Linked DNA regions of Homo sapiens. The protein of the gene in region 2 purifies or fractionates together with the protein of the main gene of each other region. This does not show direct contact. Each region holds a gene or a part of one and is shown on either strand. Other genes may lie near its edges.

Region 1 (8,053 bases), on a different chromosome or scaffold from region 2:
AGTTCTCTCTGAATAGCTATTTGATGAAACAGAAGCAGAAATAATAAGCTATGCACTTCCATCTTTGTTTATTCAACTGATGTTTTTTAAAGTGACTGACTCATGTGTGCTCAGTACACTCCCTCTTCAGTATTTAATGAACTGTGGTAATTGAAGGGGAAAGATCACAACCACAGAACTTCCAACATGTTCCTGATAGTGACAGACATAGTACCTATAAGGTGAATTACAGAAATCTTCTTTTTTGTGACACAATACATCAGCATGTGGTAACTCAGGGGTATTGTAAAAACAGCTCTAGCCTACTTTAGTAATCGGAAAATGACAAAGTCCTCCTGAAATCCTTTCTTCTGTATGTTATCTAATATCAAAACAAGTGATCAACGTGTGAAGCATGGATAAAAAATTTTGCAAAACACAAAAGATAGTTTCTACTTTCCACGAGTACATGACAGAATTTACTTTGGATATGATATATTAATACCATGTTTGTTCTTTGAAAACTCCCCATCTAATCCCCTTTGGAGATAGAACTACTTTCTCATAAGAAGATCAACAACAGCATCAAAATAATAATCAATGGTGATGACTTAATCTCAGGACGCAAGCATAAAATACTTCTGATTTACCTCTAGGAAAAGACACATTTGTTTTGGTCTTTCTTAATAGCAACATTTCTCTTCAATAAGAGACTAAATTTGAAATGGTACACTTTCTCCTGTTTTTCTTCCTGTAATTCTAGTGGCTAGGCTCAGGTAAATAAAAACAGTGTTTTGGAACATAGTGTGCATGTCTACCACTCTCTTCAGTCATGGGAAACAGAGAAATAGAAAGCATGGTTCTATATTAATTTTTTTTCTGTAAAAATATAATGCTCTCTTGACATAATGATAAAATGAATTAACTACTCCCCTAGGTGGGATAAACTAAGAAATGTAAGAATAAACAAAGTTACAAGGCAATGCAATATATAGTCCTGATCAACCCTTCAATGTCATCAAAAGTAAGATTTGGCTTCTTTTTCTTTACTAGAAAAGCCTTGAGAAAGCAAAACATAACTCAGCAGTGTTTCTCAAGTAGGCCCCAGGAGGAAAGTGAACATATACCCAAGGGATCTTGGGGCACCTTTACCTCAAGCTCAAAATTTCTTTCAAGTCTCCACTTAGAGCTTTAAATATTATGAAAAATTTGTATTCTACCTCATAATATATACATGTTTACGTTCATTTCCTCACTGCCGCCAATCTTCAAAACAAAGAAGAAACATATACCAGGAATATGTGCCATGATTACCTTGTGGTTTCATGTAACTTTGATACCCAGCTCCTCCCAAAAACCCAGTTTAAGAATTACAGATTTAAGAGTAATATGGCATACAAATAGATCAATTTATCATTTATCTCCTTTTTTATTTTATTAACAATGTTTTTATTTCTATTTTTTTTGAGACAGGGTCTCACTCTGTTACCTGGGCTGGAGTGAGTGGCACAATCTCAGCTCACTACAAGCCATCCTCCCTGGCTCCCGCCTCAGCCTCCCAAGTGATTGGGACGACAGGTGCAGAACAGCATGCCTGTCTAATTTTTGTAGAGATGGGGTTGCCCAGGCTGGTCTCGAACTCCTGGGCTCAAGTGATCTGCTCAGCTTAGCCTTCCAAAGTGCTAGGATTACAGGTGTGAACTACCACACCTGGCCACAATGTTTTTATTTTTAAAGCCTTAGCCACAGTGCTAAGAATTTGTTACCTAAGTTGTCTGCTTGGGTTAATTTCTTGTCTATTCTGTAACGCCAACTAGAGCTCAAACCATGCCACCTTCTTGCTAACTTCAAAAGCCAATTTTATCTGTGCACTGGGAAGCAAGGTGCTAGAAGTGCTAGATATTTTAGGAGAGAGGAGACTGTATGAGTAGTCATCTAGAGGTATGGGAGAGTAAATGGACCGGGGAAACAGAAAATGATTCTTGCGTAGCATAAAGGACTCAATGAGCTAAGGGATCATTAATTTAAAGTGAGACTGGTAAATATGGTTACTTTTTTTTTTCCTCTAGGTATGTTCAGATGTATGGGTGTGGGCAAGGAGTTCAGTGTACACAAGGCTATATCACTACCATGATTATGAAATTTAAGCTGGATAAGGAAAGTAAGACATCAGTAAAATCAGAGTGAAAAAAATGATGGATTTTTAAAACTGAGGGTTGCAATAGGTCTAACGACTTCAAAACTGTGAAATTGAGATTATGGAGGGGTTACAGTTTAGACAAAGATAAAATCTAGAAATGGGTACATAGTGAGATGGAGTGGAGGGCAAAATTTATTGGAAGAGAGGAGTTCCAGATTTTGAAGACACCAGGATATTGGGAGAATTATACATATGAACAATGGAATCACCAAGAATTACAAAACAAGCAGTACTGGAATGAATGCCAGGGAACCAAGAACCAAAATCTATTAGGAGACAATTTTAGATGGATCTTGTGTTTCCACACGTATTGTGAGCAGAGGCATTGACTGTCTTTGTTCTGGGCTATCTTTTTAAGCATGCTTGTATATCAAACAGCCCTGGAAAATAGACAGTGTCTTCTTCCACAGCAAAGGATAGGTTTCCTTACACTCTTGGAAGAGACAGTCTTCCTTCCAAACAAGGGCAGACATGCTTAGTATCCATTATAAAAGATTCCAGTTCCCTAAACTTGGCGTTCCTCATCTGTCATTTAATCCACTGTGTGTGCAGGTATCATCTGGACCTCTTCATATCACCCTTTGGGAATTAGAGAATTCGTGCAAGCAAATGCTGTCACTTTAGCTAATGTTTTTGCTATTAGTAATAAGGTCCTTTGTCTCTGGCCCAGAAATCTCCTGCCTTCTGCCAGCATCCATGAAATTATGGCAGGTTAACTTCTTAGTTTGCAAGTAGAGCAAATCTCAGACCCTTCACAATTCTTAACAAAATCTCCAATGAAGGAGAGATGGAGATGAGTGATGACTATAACTAAATGGATAGAAGGTGGTATAGTCTGATAACATAAGATAAAATTTGGAGGTGTTTGAGAAGAAAGAATGGTCTGGAAAATGCAATGAGAAGCTAAGATTACACCTCCAGGCTCAAAGGCAGAAAGAAGCAGGAGAGAAAATGGCCACTACTTCAAAGGGTTGCACGTAGTATCATCAGGGAAGCAAGATTTAATTTAGAGCAAAATGTAAAGTAATATTAACAGAAGAGGCTGAAGATAAAAAGAAATTTGCTGATGACTGACCTTGAGTTCCAGGGACATTATGAAAGATTTTCAGGAGACAGGGAGAGGTAGGGTTTAGGGTTAGTTTTGGATACATGTGTTAAGAAACCCACGAGTCTTAAGCTCCTTGCTGTAACTTACATGAGCAAGATAAAATGTCATGATTAAACTAGTTATGATAGTTTTAATCAGATCAAATGTTTGCTTGTTTCTATGTCCTCTGACCTCTTTTACCAACACAATATCTATTATGAAATGCTTTATTTCTTACTAACATCATTTTAGAAAATTTAGAATATATAAGTTTTTAAAAATTTAAATGTCAAACTGTTATTTAAGATAGTAAGAAGCAAGTGTTAACTTACTTGAATTAGATCTAAAATGCCAAGTTCACTTTCTGAAGAATCCACACAGAAGACAAAATATAACGTTGCATAATGTCTATAAATCAGTTTGTTGTCAGATCCTCCAATTAATCTAAATGACAAAAAAATTGTAATGTTATTGGAAACAAAATGCGAATCATTTTCATTAGCTCAAGCAAACTGACAATTTGTTTAAAAACCACTTGTCAAATGAAAGGTGACATTCAATGGCAAAGTATTTAAGTGAACTTATTCAGAGACTAGGTGAATTAAGGTGGCTGTTTTCTTCAGAAACATCAAGTAAAAGAAGCCAGTGCTTAATTTCAGTTCATTCATTCATTAAACTATTCTCTGAGTAACTACTATGTGCCAAGCACTGGTAGTGGGGAAGAAGCAACAAACACACACATCAGAACATCATCAGATAGTGGCAAGTGTTACACTGACAATCAAAATACAATGATGATATATTGATGGGTTCCCTACTTCAGGCTGAATATTAAGCAAGAGTGGCATTTAAGCTGAGATCTAATGATAAGGAGTTGGCTTGGAAAAAATTTAGAGAAGAGCATTTCAGGCTAAGGTAGTAAGTACTAAAAGGACATTTCATCAAGAACAAAGTATGTATGTTCAGGGAAGAGAAAAAAGGCCAGTAGATAAGAAAAGATTAGTAAATGATAAAGTCAGAGAAGTAGGCGGAAATTAGATCATGGGGCATTTGTAAGTGCTTACTAGATTTAACTCCATACGTCACAGTAAGTTACACAGCTTAAGACTGATTATCAACCAGAAAAAAAAGAAGAATGACACTTCTTAAGTTTTGGATAGATTTACCGTCAAGATCTCTTCCAAAATTACATTGTTTTGACATAAATGCAAGAAAACTGAGCTAAGATACTAAACTCTTTCATGAAATACTTTTATTTATAATGACTGGAATTTTAGTATTTTAGAAATAATAATTTAGGAATCATTCCAAACATATTTTTCTAAATATAGTTTAGCTATTTCATAGTTAAGTTTACAATAATGAATTCACCTTCTTAAAAGACCCCTAAACACTTACATAATTTACAATCAAGGCTATATGTAACCAAAATTAAACTAACATCCATCCCAACAGAATATGGGAAAATGGCATCTCTCCCTCCCTCCCTCCCTCCCTCCCTCCCTCCCTTCCTTCCTTCCTTCCCTCCCTCCCTCCCTTCATCCTCTCTTTCTCTGTCTCTCTCTCTCTCTTTCTTTTTGAGACAGAGTTTCACTCTGTCACCCAGGCTGGAGTGCAATGGTGCTATCTCAGCTCACTGCAGCCTCTGCCTCCTGGCTTCAAGCAATTCTCCTGCCTCAGCCACCAAAGTAGCTGCAATTACAGGCGCACACCACCACACCTGGCTGATTTTTGTACTTTTAGTAGAGATGGGGTTTCACCATGTTGCCCAGGCTGGTCTCGAACTCCTGAGCTCAGGAGATCTGCACGCCTAGGCCTCCCAAAATGCTAGGATTACAGGCGTGAGCCACTGCGCCTGGCCAGCATCTATTTCTTACACAGTAAAAATAATACTAAACTTATAAGTTCTGTAGAAACAACTTCCCAAGGTATATACTACTTCTATGTCTTCTAATAGCAAAAGGAGAAATGATCTTTGACAAGAATAAAAATTTCCTACTATGCTAGATACTCTTCTAGAGAAGATGTTTAATTTAAAAATATCTACATGCAATTTAAAGATTCTGAGAGTATATTTACAGACTATGACTGCAATTGTTCCCTGAAAGAGGCAAAAAGAACACAAATAGGAGGCTTTACTCCATTCTGAATCAGCGATTTAGTGATTATCTTAAAACTTTTGCTTTACTTTAAAAGGACAGCAAACTTCTGAAGAATATAAGTTTCAAAAAGGCCAGTAATGCTATTAAAAGCAAGCAAAATATTAATGCGGCAAGTACATATTTTGCCTTTAAAAATATAATCTTATCTTTAAGCTATAGTATAATACTGACAAAAATTCCTGTACAGAATGTAATACATCATATAAAACCACAGGACTGAGAAATCCTGTTAGTCCAAATAACTCATTTTATAGAGGAGAAAACTGAGGCCTGAGAATTTAAGTAACCTGTCCAAGGAAATCAGCTAGTTAGTGACAAAACTAGGATTAAACTAGATGTGAGGCCTCATCTCTGCTGCAATATTTGCTTTCTATTTTTTGTAAGGTTAAAAAAGAACAATCACAATTTCCAGCCACAATTTCTAATTCAAATAGCACCCTAGTAAGATTAATCAAGTTCTTACATGCAGTGCACTGTGCTGGGTGGTAAGTTTCCTAGGAGATAAGAAATCAAGAGGCTAGGATGAGAGGAAGTGATAGTAATGTCAAAGACAACTAAAATTAAATAAGTACAAGTAAAATTCAAAAACAGAAGCAGGTACACTTGTCTCAATTATTAAATTAGAAGCCTTGAGTTAACAGCAAAATTTGTAAGTATGTATTGGACATTTAAGGACAGCATGATATAATCTTTCAGGAAACCCAAGTTAAGTGTTCCACATGATAAAAAGTACCTTATGACCATGGATTCCCTGTTATCCAGAGTATTTCTCATCCATCATACACAGTAAAATACAGAAAATTCTAAGTTTCTCTGACTGATTTATGTTTGAGAACAAACCATTTTCATGGAAGTTATTAGTTTAAAAGTATTTGTTTGTAATATTTGGCAATATTCTTATTCATTTTAAAAATAGAAAAATTGATTAGCTGAATTAGGTATATTTGAAAAACAGACTTCAGTCTTGTAACAGTAAAATAAAGAATGTAATCTAATTTTTATGAACATTCACAAAAAGGAATACTCTGTAGTCATTAAAAAGAATAAGCTTGTCCTAGATGTGTTTCTATGCAAAGCTTTTGAAAATACTGAGAACCAGCAACATGCAAATGAGCATACAAAGTGTGATCTCATAAATAAAAATTTTAAGGTTGTAGGTTAGTCAACACATATAACATACTTTATATGTTAGTCAATACAAACTATTTTCTAGAAGGATACACAAGAAATTGGGTAGAAGGACTAAGGTTGAGAGATTCTTATTTTACATTTTATACTTCCCTGTAATGTTGGAATTTTTACGATTTAATATATTACCTTTATATAAAATTCCCTTCCAAAATTTTTAAGAGGAAAAAAGATTGCATATCTTTTAAAAATAATTCTTTAAGTTAGATTTATAGCTAACATAGGTGGCAATTAATTCACCTAATCCAATTAATCAAAAGTAGAAAACTTTTACCATAAACTGATTAAACAGTATATATTTTAATCACATAGTCAAAACTTAGAAATGTCTATGAAATGCTTTACTTACAATCCTCCTTCTAGGAAATTACAAACATTTTCATCTCTCTTAGATACCAAATGGAAAGTCTCCCTGATGATTTGCTGTTGTGTATCTTCACTCTGAGGAAGAATAATTCATATATATTAGGATGGAGTGTATAGGTTTAATAGCATTTTAAGAATTTTTAAAATCAAAGGTAGCAATATCTGTCTGGGAAATCCATCTAAGAGAGGGGTCCTTGGAGAAGTGACTTAAATTATACCTTACAGAAGCAAAACCCAGTATTTTTTGATGAAAAAGAAAAAAAACCCAATTATTTATATTTACCACTATAATAAAAGTAACACATTTCTAAGTTTCAAAAACCAACAAGAAAAAATATTAGATGAATTACATACACTGGTAAAAGGGAAACTAGATATTAACTAGTCAAAGCTGATTATCTTACAAATGAGTAAACTGAATCAGAAAGGTAAAGATATAAATAGTGTAGCTAATCTATATTTGAATGGAGGAAAGAAATAGAACTATGGAGCTTCCAATTAAGTTTAACCTTTACTAAATATAGACTGAGGTAAGAGTCCATCCATCTTACTCATCTTTATATAAGCCGATCTAAAGCCAAGGATTGGGTCAATAAACATTTATTAACCTGGACCAAGCAATTCATATTCCAGTAAGAGTCAGCGTCCTGGCCGGGCACAGTGGCTCATGCCTGTAATCCCAGCACTCTGAGAGGCCGAGATGGGTGGATCACAAGGTCAGGAGATCGAGACCATCCTGGCCAACACAGTGAAACCCCGTCTCTACTAAAAATACAAAAATAGCTGGGTGTGGTGGCACGTGCCTGTAATCCCAGCTACTCGGGAGGCTGAAGCAGGAGAATCGCTTGAACCCAGGAGGCAGAGATTACAGTGAGCTGAGATCGCGCCACTGCACTCCAGCCTGGCGACAGAGTGAGATTCTATCTCAAACAAAACAAAACAAGAGTAAGCTTCCTAAACACTGCAATAGAAGACTGACCAAAATCATGAACACCAATTTCACAGGAAAGGATGTGAATGGTCCACAAAGAAATGAAAAGATACTAAATCGCAGTAGTAATTAAGTGAAAT
Region 2 (8,250 bases):
CTACTTGGGAGAAGCCCCCTCCCCCAGGTTAGAGGTGGACAAGAGGGGCCTCCCTCACACAGGGCCGAATTCAGGGGGGCAGGGTTCAAGGACATCCCACTGCTGCGGCCGCTTAGACCAAGAGGGTTTGGCCAATCAGGCCGGAAGGGGTTGGAGGTCAGGTTAGTTTCCCCGGCATCTGCCCTGCCCCAGCTGAGCCCCTTCCTTCTGCTTCCCTAAATGCCACGTCAGTGGGAACATGCTGGGGCGGGAACGCAGAATGTCCCTTTCTCAGGAAACGCCTGACCAGGCCAGGCCCACGGGTCAGACCTTGGTGCGAATGACATTCTTGTCGGAATCGATGTCGGTCAATGTGTCGTAGTCATCCTCCTCCACAGAGCTCATGGAGTCCACTCGGGGCCGAGTACCTACAGGTTCAAAGGAGCGGCCTGGAAAGGGCAGGGAGGGAGGGGTTGCACCGGTGGACACAAAACCCACAGTGGCCCTCGCCCATCTGAGGCAATTGTAACAATTATTAGGCAGTAGGGAAGAGGCAAATTGTGGGCTGGGCCTCAGAGTTGGGGTGGAAGTGGGCTCAGGAGCTGGGAGGAGACATCAGGTGCTCCTAAGTCCTGGGGGATGATGGTAGACTCTAGAAGAGGCCACCACACAGGGGCCGCTCTAGCTTTGCTCTGTTCCTGGCACCCCTCATGGGCTAGGGCTTCCCAGGCCAGGACACAAGGCAGACCCCAGGCAGCAGACACAAACAACAGGATTGAACTCGGCAAGTCATGCTGATTCAAGGGTGCCCAGCCCTGTGGGTTCTGAGAAGACACTGCCTTGGCTGCCACTGGGTTAAAGACCCAGTGGGCCTGGGGTGCAGAAAGAGCATTTCTCCTTTATCCAGAGGCCAGAATGTGACCCCCATGCCTGTGAGCCCTCCCCAAGCAGGCCAGGGAGTGAGGGCGCTGGCAACGCAGACGATAAACTAGATTGTCCAGCCTGGAGAGAGCGGAGGCGCCAGCCCGCCAGCCAAAGGAGCCTGTGCTCTGCTGCTATCTCAGAAGACACAAGAGCGGGCAATTACTGGAATTACATGGGGAAGCCATGCACATAGAATCTTTCTGGCCCCACAGCCGGCAGTCAACCGGAGCCGGCAGGCACTGATTGGCAAAACAGCCCTACCCCCACCCCAGGTCTACCCATGGCAATGCACAGCTGCCGCATCTGGCCAGAGGGGAGGCGCCGCTTGAACTGGTCGTGCCCTTCAAAGGAAAGGGAAAGTTACCAGGGAACTGGGGCCAAGGAGGAGGGGATGAGGGAAGAGAGGGGTTAGGAAGACAGCAGGCCCTTCCCAGGTTCCAGCATCTGGCAGAAGAGGCAACCGCCCACCGTGACATTTTACCCAGACAACACCGTCCTGCACCACACCGCCCCTCCCAGCCTGGCCCACTCACCCTGGTAACCGTAAGAGAGGTCCCCAGTGCCAGCGCTGTCAACCAGACCATCGGTAGATCCAGAAACATTCTCTGTGGGGAACGATCAGTGGTGAGGCAGGAAGGAGAGGCCGCAGGGAAAGGGGCTCTGAGCATCTGCAGAGGGTGTGGGGGCTGGAGGAGGTGGCTCCCACTTTACCGCCTCGGAGGTGGTGGCCTAAGGAGACAAGGTCATGTCCCCAGCAAGCACGGTGCTGGCTTTGACACGTACCAAAGGAGCCATAGTTGTAACCCTCATAAGGGGAACTGCCAGGAAAAGAATCAGCCAGGACTCGAGGGTGACCTGCAATGAGAAGTCAAGGTCTGTTAGCACTGGACGAAGAGAGAGGCCTAGAGCCAGGGAGAAGAACAAAGAAAGGTCCAGAGAAGACAGCCACAGGGAGGCCATGCCAGCAGACGAGAAGCAGCACCTATCCAGGCAAACACACCCCACTGCTGCCACCACCACCCGCCCCAGCCCCCTGCCTGCCTCTCCCATGGAAACAGCACCACCCTTTGTCTTCCCTAAGGAGAGAGAAAGTTCAAGAACAGGCACATCTAAGTTACCAGCAACAAAGACAACACTGGCCCGCCCACGAGCCCTCCAGACAGCCCTGTGCTGCACCCTCCCTCCCCTACTCTGGACTCCAGCTCCTCTGCCCACAGCACCTGGAGCTTACCAAGGAGAGAAGCTAAGAGAGAAGGTCCCACGCAGGAGGGAGGACAGAAAGAGAGGGAGGGGTGGAAGAGAGAGAGAAGGAAAGGTTAATAATCCCAGAGACCGTGGGCCACACTGCCCAAGGCAGGCAGACACCATCGCTAGACATGGAATAAACCAAGCAACACCTCAGCCTCTGAGGTGTGCATGTTAGGGATGCATGGACATCATATCCCAGCCTCATTCCCATCTGTGGAGTGTTACCCCCATCTGAACATCCAGAAACCCCCAGCCCTTCCTCCTCCAACCCCCTAGGGAACCATCCACCACCACCCCCCAAAACACAAAGCACACTGTGCCCGCCCCACCCAGGCCCCCTGGAGGTACCGCTTTCTGGGCAGGCTCGGTCAATGGCCACCAGCAGGGTCTTCTTCTTCTGCCTGCATGGACAGAACCCACAGGCCACCCAGATGGGACAGGACAAGGATCACTCTGTATGGGGCTGACTTTCCTTCTACCTCTCTGCTCCACTCTCATCGCTATGACCCTGTCCTCCACCCTTTGTCCCAGGGTTCCTCACAGGCTGGGGAGCAACATGGGATCTCCCTGCTTGGGAAGAAGGTTGAGGGGAGGGGATGGTTTCTAGAGAGGCTCATGGGCCACAGACTCTAACAGCCCCACCATCATCTGCTATGGATGGTGTAGATTACCCTAGGCTGGCTCAGATCCTGCCAGGTGATCTGCCCCACACACCTGCCCAAACCACCCAGACCAGGGGAGGCCCAGCAGTTCCACTTTACCTCCAGTTCTCCCAGCAGGCCAGGAGGACGGTCAGCAGGTAAAAGGAGAGAAATATACCCAGGCAAAAGAGCATCCCACTGACGTATGCCTCAGCTTCAAGGAGGAAACAGGAAGGTGGACAGGTCAAAACCTTCCACCACCTCCCATCATGGCACCCAAAGGCCTTCATGTCCTCCTCCACCCAGCTCAATCTCTCACCCTTCTCCCCTCAAATGTAAGGCCCTGCCTAGCCAGTATGAACAACTGGCAGTTCCTCTAATACACCAAACTCTGACACACTCCTATTTTTGCTCATGTTGCTCCCTGGGCTAGAACTTTCTCTTCTACTTTTTTTTTTTTTTTTTTTTTTTTGAGACGGGCTCACTCTGTTACCCATGCTGGAGTGCAGTGGCACGATCATAGCTCACTGCAGCCTCCAACTCCTAGGCTCCATCCTTCCACCTCAGCCTCCTGAGTAGCTGGGACTACAGATGTGTGCCACCACGCCTGGCTCATTTTTTTATTTTTTATAGAGATTGGGTCTCGCTATGTTGCTCAGGCTGGTCTTGAATTCCTGGCTTCAAGCAATTTCCCTGCCTCAGCCTCCCAAAGTTCTGGGATTATAGGCGTGAGCCACCGTGCCTGGCCTCTCAAAAATTCCACCTTGACTTAACCCTCAAACCACAGCTCAGGGACTGTGTCCTCTAGGAAGCTTTCTCTGTCCTGTATTTCCACAGTGACCTGTTCCTTGCTCACCACAGCTCTTAACTGCCTCCTGTTCCTCTAGACAGGACCCCGCCCCCACCAAGGACTGCTGCCTTAGCATACCACCTGGCATATAGGAGGTGCTCCATAAATATTTGCTGAATAAATAATCCATGTAAGAGAGGCACCCTGGCCGGGCGCGGTGGCTCACGCCTGTAATCTCAGCACTTTGGGAGCCGGGGCAGGTGGATCACGAGGTCAGGAGATTGAGACCATCCTGGCTAACACGGTGAAACTCCTTCTCTACTAAAAATACAAAAAATTAGCCGGGCGTGGTGGCGGGCACCTGTAGTCCCAGCTACTCGGTAGGCTGAGGCAGGAGAATGGCGTGAACCTGGGAGGTGGAGCTTGCAGTAAGCCGAGATTGCGCCACTGCACTCCAGCCTGGGCAACAGAGCAAGACTCCATCTCGGAAAAAAAAAAAAAAAAGAGAGAGAGAGAGAGGCACCCTCTGGCTGGGCACGGTGGCTCATGCCTGTAATCCCACACTCTGGGAGGCCAAGGTGGGCGGATCACCTGAGGTCAAGAGTTCAAGACCAGCCTGGCCAACATGGTGAAACCCCCGTCTCTACTAAAAATACAAAAATTAGCTGGGCATGGCGGCAGGTGCCTGTAATCCCAGCAACTCAGGAGGCTGAGGCAGGAGAATCATTTGAACCCGGGAGGCGGAGATTGCAGTGAGTAGAGATCTTGCCACTGCATTACAGCCTGGGTGACAGAGCAAGAGTCCATCTCAAAAAAAGAAAGAGAGGCACCTTCTTTCCCCTCCTATCACAGTCCCTTAGGGCCCCATTTAATCATTCAGTAAATATTTATTGAGCACTGAGTAGGGGCCTGGTACTTTCCTGCTAATTTTATCTGCTAATTTTGTGCTAGCCCTCATAACTTAGTGAGATTAACTGGACAAATTTTACTCCCTCTGTTATAGAGACAGGGAAACTGAGACTCAATCTTATAGCAGTGTTTCAATGACAAATTAGGGTATGTTTCTGAATATGAGATTAAGAAACATCCTTCAGAATAAATAAGATTATAACTATGCTAACAAAGCAAAATTAAAGCTCTTTCTTACAATCAGGTTACACTGCTGATAAGTGGCAGAAAGTGAACTGGACCTCAGTTCTTCCATCTTTAGTCATGAACTCTCTGTACCACATCACACTGGAACTCACCTCCCGGCCCTCCCCATCTAGAAGCCTGCCAAGAACACTCCCCGTTCCTACCCCACCAGCATATCTGCATCCTCATCACCCACTTCAGGGCACACCCTATATCCCAGGTCTGAAAGCAGGAGCCAGAGAGGCTTGTCCATCCCCTCTCAGCCACCTGCAGCACTCACACGTGACTGCTTGAGACACCAGCACTGACAGGGTTTTCTGGCGGTGCCCTTGATCGACCGGTTCATCTGGAAGTAAAATGTCAAAGTGGTAAACTAGTTGCCTGGAGCTTGGCTAGAGTCAGTGGGATCAGGCCTTTGAGAGACTGGAGCCAAAAACCCATGTCCTATCAGGTCCACCAATCAGCCACGCAGGCTCTTCTTGCTCCCAGAAAGTGACCAAGACCTCCCCATCCCTAGCCAGGCCCAGGGCACAAAATGTACCTTCTGCGAAGGGGTAGAAAGGCAGGGAGCCCCCGCAGGCTTGGTCTTCGGTCTTCACCACCACCACCACATAAAAGCTGTTGCTGGGGAAGTCTTTGCGCTGCAGGATGATGATGATAAATATCTTCTTCATCATCATCATCATCATTCTTTTCTAAATACTTGTTCTGGGGCCAGACATTATGCTAAATTCTTCATAGATATATTTTACTTAATCCTCACAAGATTTTTTTTTTTTTTGAGACGGAGTTTCACTCCTATTGCCTAGGCTGGAGTGCCATGGCATGATCTCAGCTCACTGCAACCTCCGCCTCCCGGGTTCAAACAATTCTCCTGCTTCAACCTCCCAAGTAGCTGGGATTACAGGCGTCCATCACCACGCCCAGCTAATTTTTATGTTTTTAGTAGAGATGGGGTTTCACCATGTTGGCCAGGCTGGTCTTGAACGCCTGATCTCAGGTGATCTGCCCGCCTCAGCCTCCCGAAGTGTGGGATTACAGGCGTGAGCCACTGCGCCTGACCTTTTTTTTCTTGAGACAGAGTTTCACTCCTTTTGCCCAGGCTGGAGTGCAGTGGTGTGATCTCGGCTCACTGCAACCTCTGTCTCCCAGGTTCAAGTGATTCTCCTGACTCAGCCTCCCGAGTAGCTGGGATTACAGGCATGCGCCACCATGCCCAGCTAATTTTTCGTATTTTTAGTAGAGACGGGGTTTCAGCCTGTTGGCCAGGCTGGTCTTGAACTCCTGATCTCAGGTGATCCGCCCACCTCGGCCTCCCAAAGTGCTGGGATTACAGGAATGAGCCACCGCGCTCAGCCCTCTTATTGTTACAATGAATGAAGTAGGTATGACAGCCAGAAGGGGGTACTCTACTCTTTCCCATCCCCAAGAGCAACTGGGATTATGGTACAACTCTCATATATATCAGGGGACTCAAAGTCACAGGGACTGGAAGGCCAAAGACTCAGTCGTGTGTAGGATAGGAATGGGCAGAGGAAGAAGAGCTCAAGTTTGGAAAGCTACACAGCTTATCGCCCAGCCACACCTCCCACGTGGCCACATGCATTTCCTACCTGTACGGTGATGGCCGCCTTCTTGGTCATCGTCTGGTACATGCCGATGAAGGCTACGTTGTTGTCCAGGTCATAGACAGGACACTGCAGAGGGGCGGGAGAGGCAGATGGATGGGAACCTGGCCTGCCCCTCTCTTTAGCAGCCCTGCTGCCTGCTGGGGAAGAGCAAAAGGGCAGGCAACTCACCAGCACATCCTGAATGGAGATGACTGAGCAGGGGAAGGCCTTGTTGGAGGTCACCTTGACAATTACCGAGTCCACGCCTTCAGGGAACTCATACTTGAAGTACTGAGGGTGCAGGAAGGAAGGGAGAGCCCCATCTCATGAGGATGCTCTCTTGGCCCCTCTAGAAGGGAATAGTCCCCTATAAGCGAGGACCCAGAATCCTCTGAGGGGTGGGCAGTGGAGGCTCTCCGAGGAGACAGGCCTTGATCACAGCAGCCCCTTTCTCTGTATACCATTCCCTTCAACCTCAGCAGGGCACTCAGCAGAATGCCAGAGAGGCAACCAGACTCCATGTCTCTGTACAGTCCCATGCTGTCTGTCCCTCACCATGTCAGGGCCAGAGCTCCTGTTTCCAGAGAGCCCTCCATGGAGAAAACAGCCAATTCAAAAGGCCAAGCAAAGACCGCTGGCCACTCCCATTCTCATATTCAAGCTCCCCCATTTCTCCTCTCGAGCAATCAACAGGGAGATGTTACCTGGGGCTGTGCTGCTGTGGTATTGAAGCTGAACTGCTCCCCAGTCCTGCAGGGCAGAGAAGAGCCCCCACCAGTCACCCCCGGAGCCTGGGGAAGAACCAGCCCCCGTGGTCCCCTCACTCTACCCTGCAGACCTGAGCACAAAATCGTCCATGCGGCTGACCCGGAGCTGGTATGTGGTGTTGACTGGTGACAGGGTGGACACATCCACGTAGAAGAACTGAATCTCCGACTCATTCTTGGTGGGGGGCTGACACAGGGTTCGTTCCACTTTTTGGTAGAGGTACTTGCGCTGAAACCTATGGCCCGAAGCAGGGAGATAGGATGTGAGCACTGTCCCAGCCGGCCTGCCCCTCCAGAGGAGCGAGGCCCCACCTCGCCCCGTCTGGTCTCCACCACCTCCCTGCGAGGTGCACAAGCTCCCGGCTGGTGGGACTCGGCCCTTGTGCTGTTGACCAGCCTCCCAGCCCAGGGAAAGGGGAGGAGAAATGGGGGGGCTCCTGGTTGAGGCTCCAGCCAAGGACTGGCCTAGGCTGCCCCGCTTCCCTGATGCCCAGATCCTACTCACATCCCTCGCAGGATTAGGGGCACCTGGAAGGACACCACAGCCTCCTTCTGGCGGACCACAAACAGCAACGGCGCCCCCTTCTGCTTGTTCAGGACGTTCACAGACACACGCACGCCCTCTGTCTGCAGAACGACATGGAAATGCCTCTCAAGCCTCTGCCACCAGGGACACGTGGCTCCAGAGACTATGAGCCCTGCCCTCCTTCATGCCAGCTACTTTGGTCTTTCTCCATCTTGGTCGGGCCAGGGAGTCATCTCTGCCTCTTCTTCTGCCAGAACAACCCCCAGACTCCAGGAAAGACCTGTGCTGAGTGCAGCTCCTGGCCGGCAGACATGTGCAGGGCAGCAGGACCCAAGCAACCGCAGGGTCTCACCCTCTGCCAGGAAACACGGTGGAGGCCTTGCGAGTCTCCAGGATACCCCATTCCTATCCATGTGCACAGGATGCACAGGCCTGCACACACAAACGTGTACACACGCCCCCACACACGAAGACACAGGAGAACAAGAAGTGCTCCTCAACCTTCCTGTGAGCCAGGAAGCCAGCAGGAAGCTCTAGTTAACAGCTAACCTGGGGCCAGAGCCCAGAGGAGTTGAGGAGGGGTAGGTATTGAAGGCCATGTTGTATCCTTAGCTCCCACCAAGGGACAGGG

The links. Proteins that work in one complex are often made in the same cells at the same time.
Region 1: the proteins of SIDT2 (region 2) and AP3S1 purify together in Homo sapiens (co-immunoprecipitation; 2 studies listed by BioGRID and IntAct, with this or other methods). This does not show direct contact.

Annotation. Positions count from the first base shown.
Region 1 is NC_000005.10:115,865,674-115,873,726, reverse strand, and holds part of AP3S1 (AP-3 complex subunit sigma-1), read right to left. Parts: intron 7,058-8,053; coding exon 6,966-7,057; intron 3,711-6,965; coding exon 3,599-3,710; intron 1-3,598. UniProt on the Homo sapiens protein: Part of the AP-3 complex, an adaptor-related complex which is not clathrin-associated. The complex is associated with the Golgi region as well as more peripheral structures.
Region 2 is NC_000011.10:117,180,886-117,189,135, reverse strand, and holds part of SIDT2 (SID1 transmembrane family member 2 precursor), read right to left. Parts: intron 7,721-8,250; coding exon 7,599-7,720; intron 7,330-7,598; coding exon 7,165-7,329; intron 7,077-7,164; coding exon 7,031-7,076; intron 6,618-7,030; coding exon 6,516-6,617; intron 6,414-6,515; coding exon 6,330-6,413; intron 5,358-6,329; coding exon 5,258-5,357; intron 5,063-5,257; coding exon 4,997-5,062; intron 3,007-4,996; coding exon 2,913-3,006; intron 2,553-2,912; coding exon 2,500-2,552; intron 1,759-2,499; coding exon 1,687-1,758; intron 1,509-1,686; coding exon 1,437-1,508; intron 429-1,436; coding exon 310-428; intron 1-309.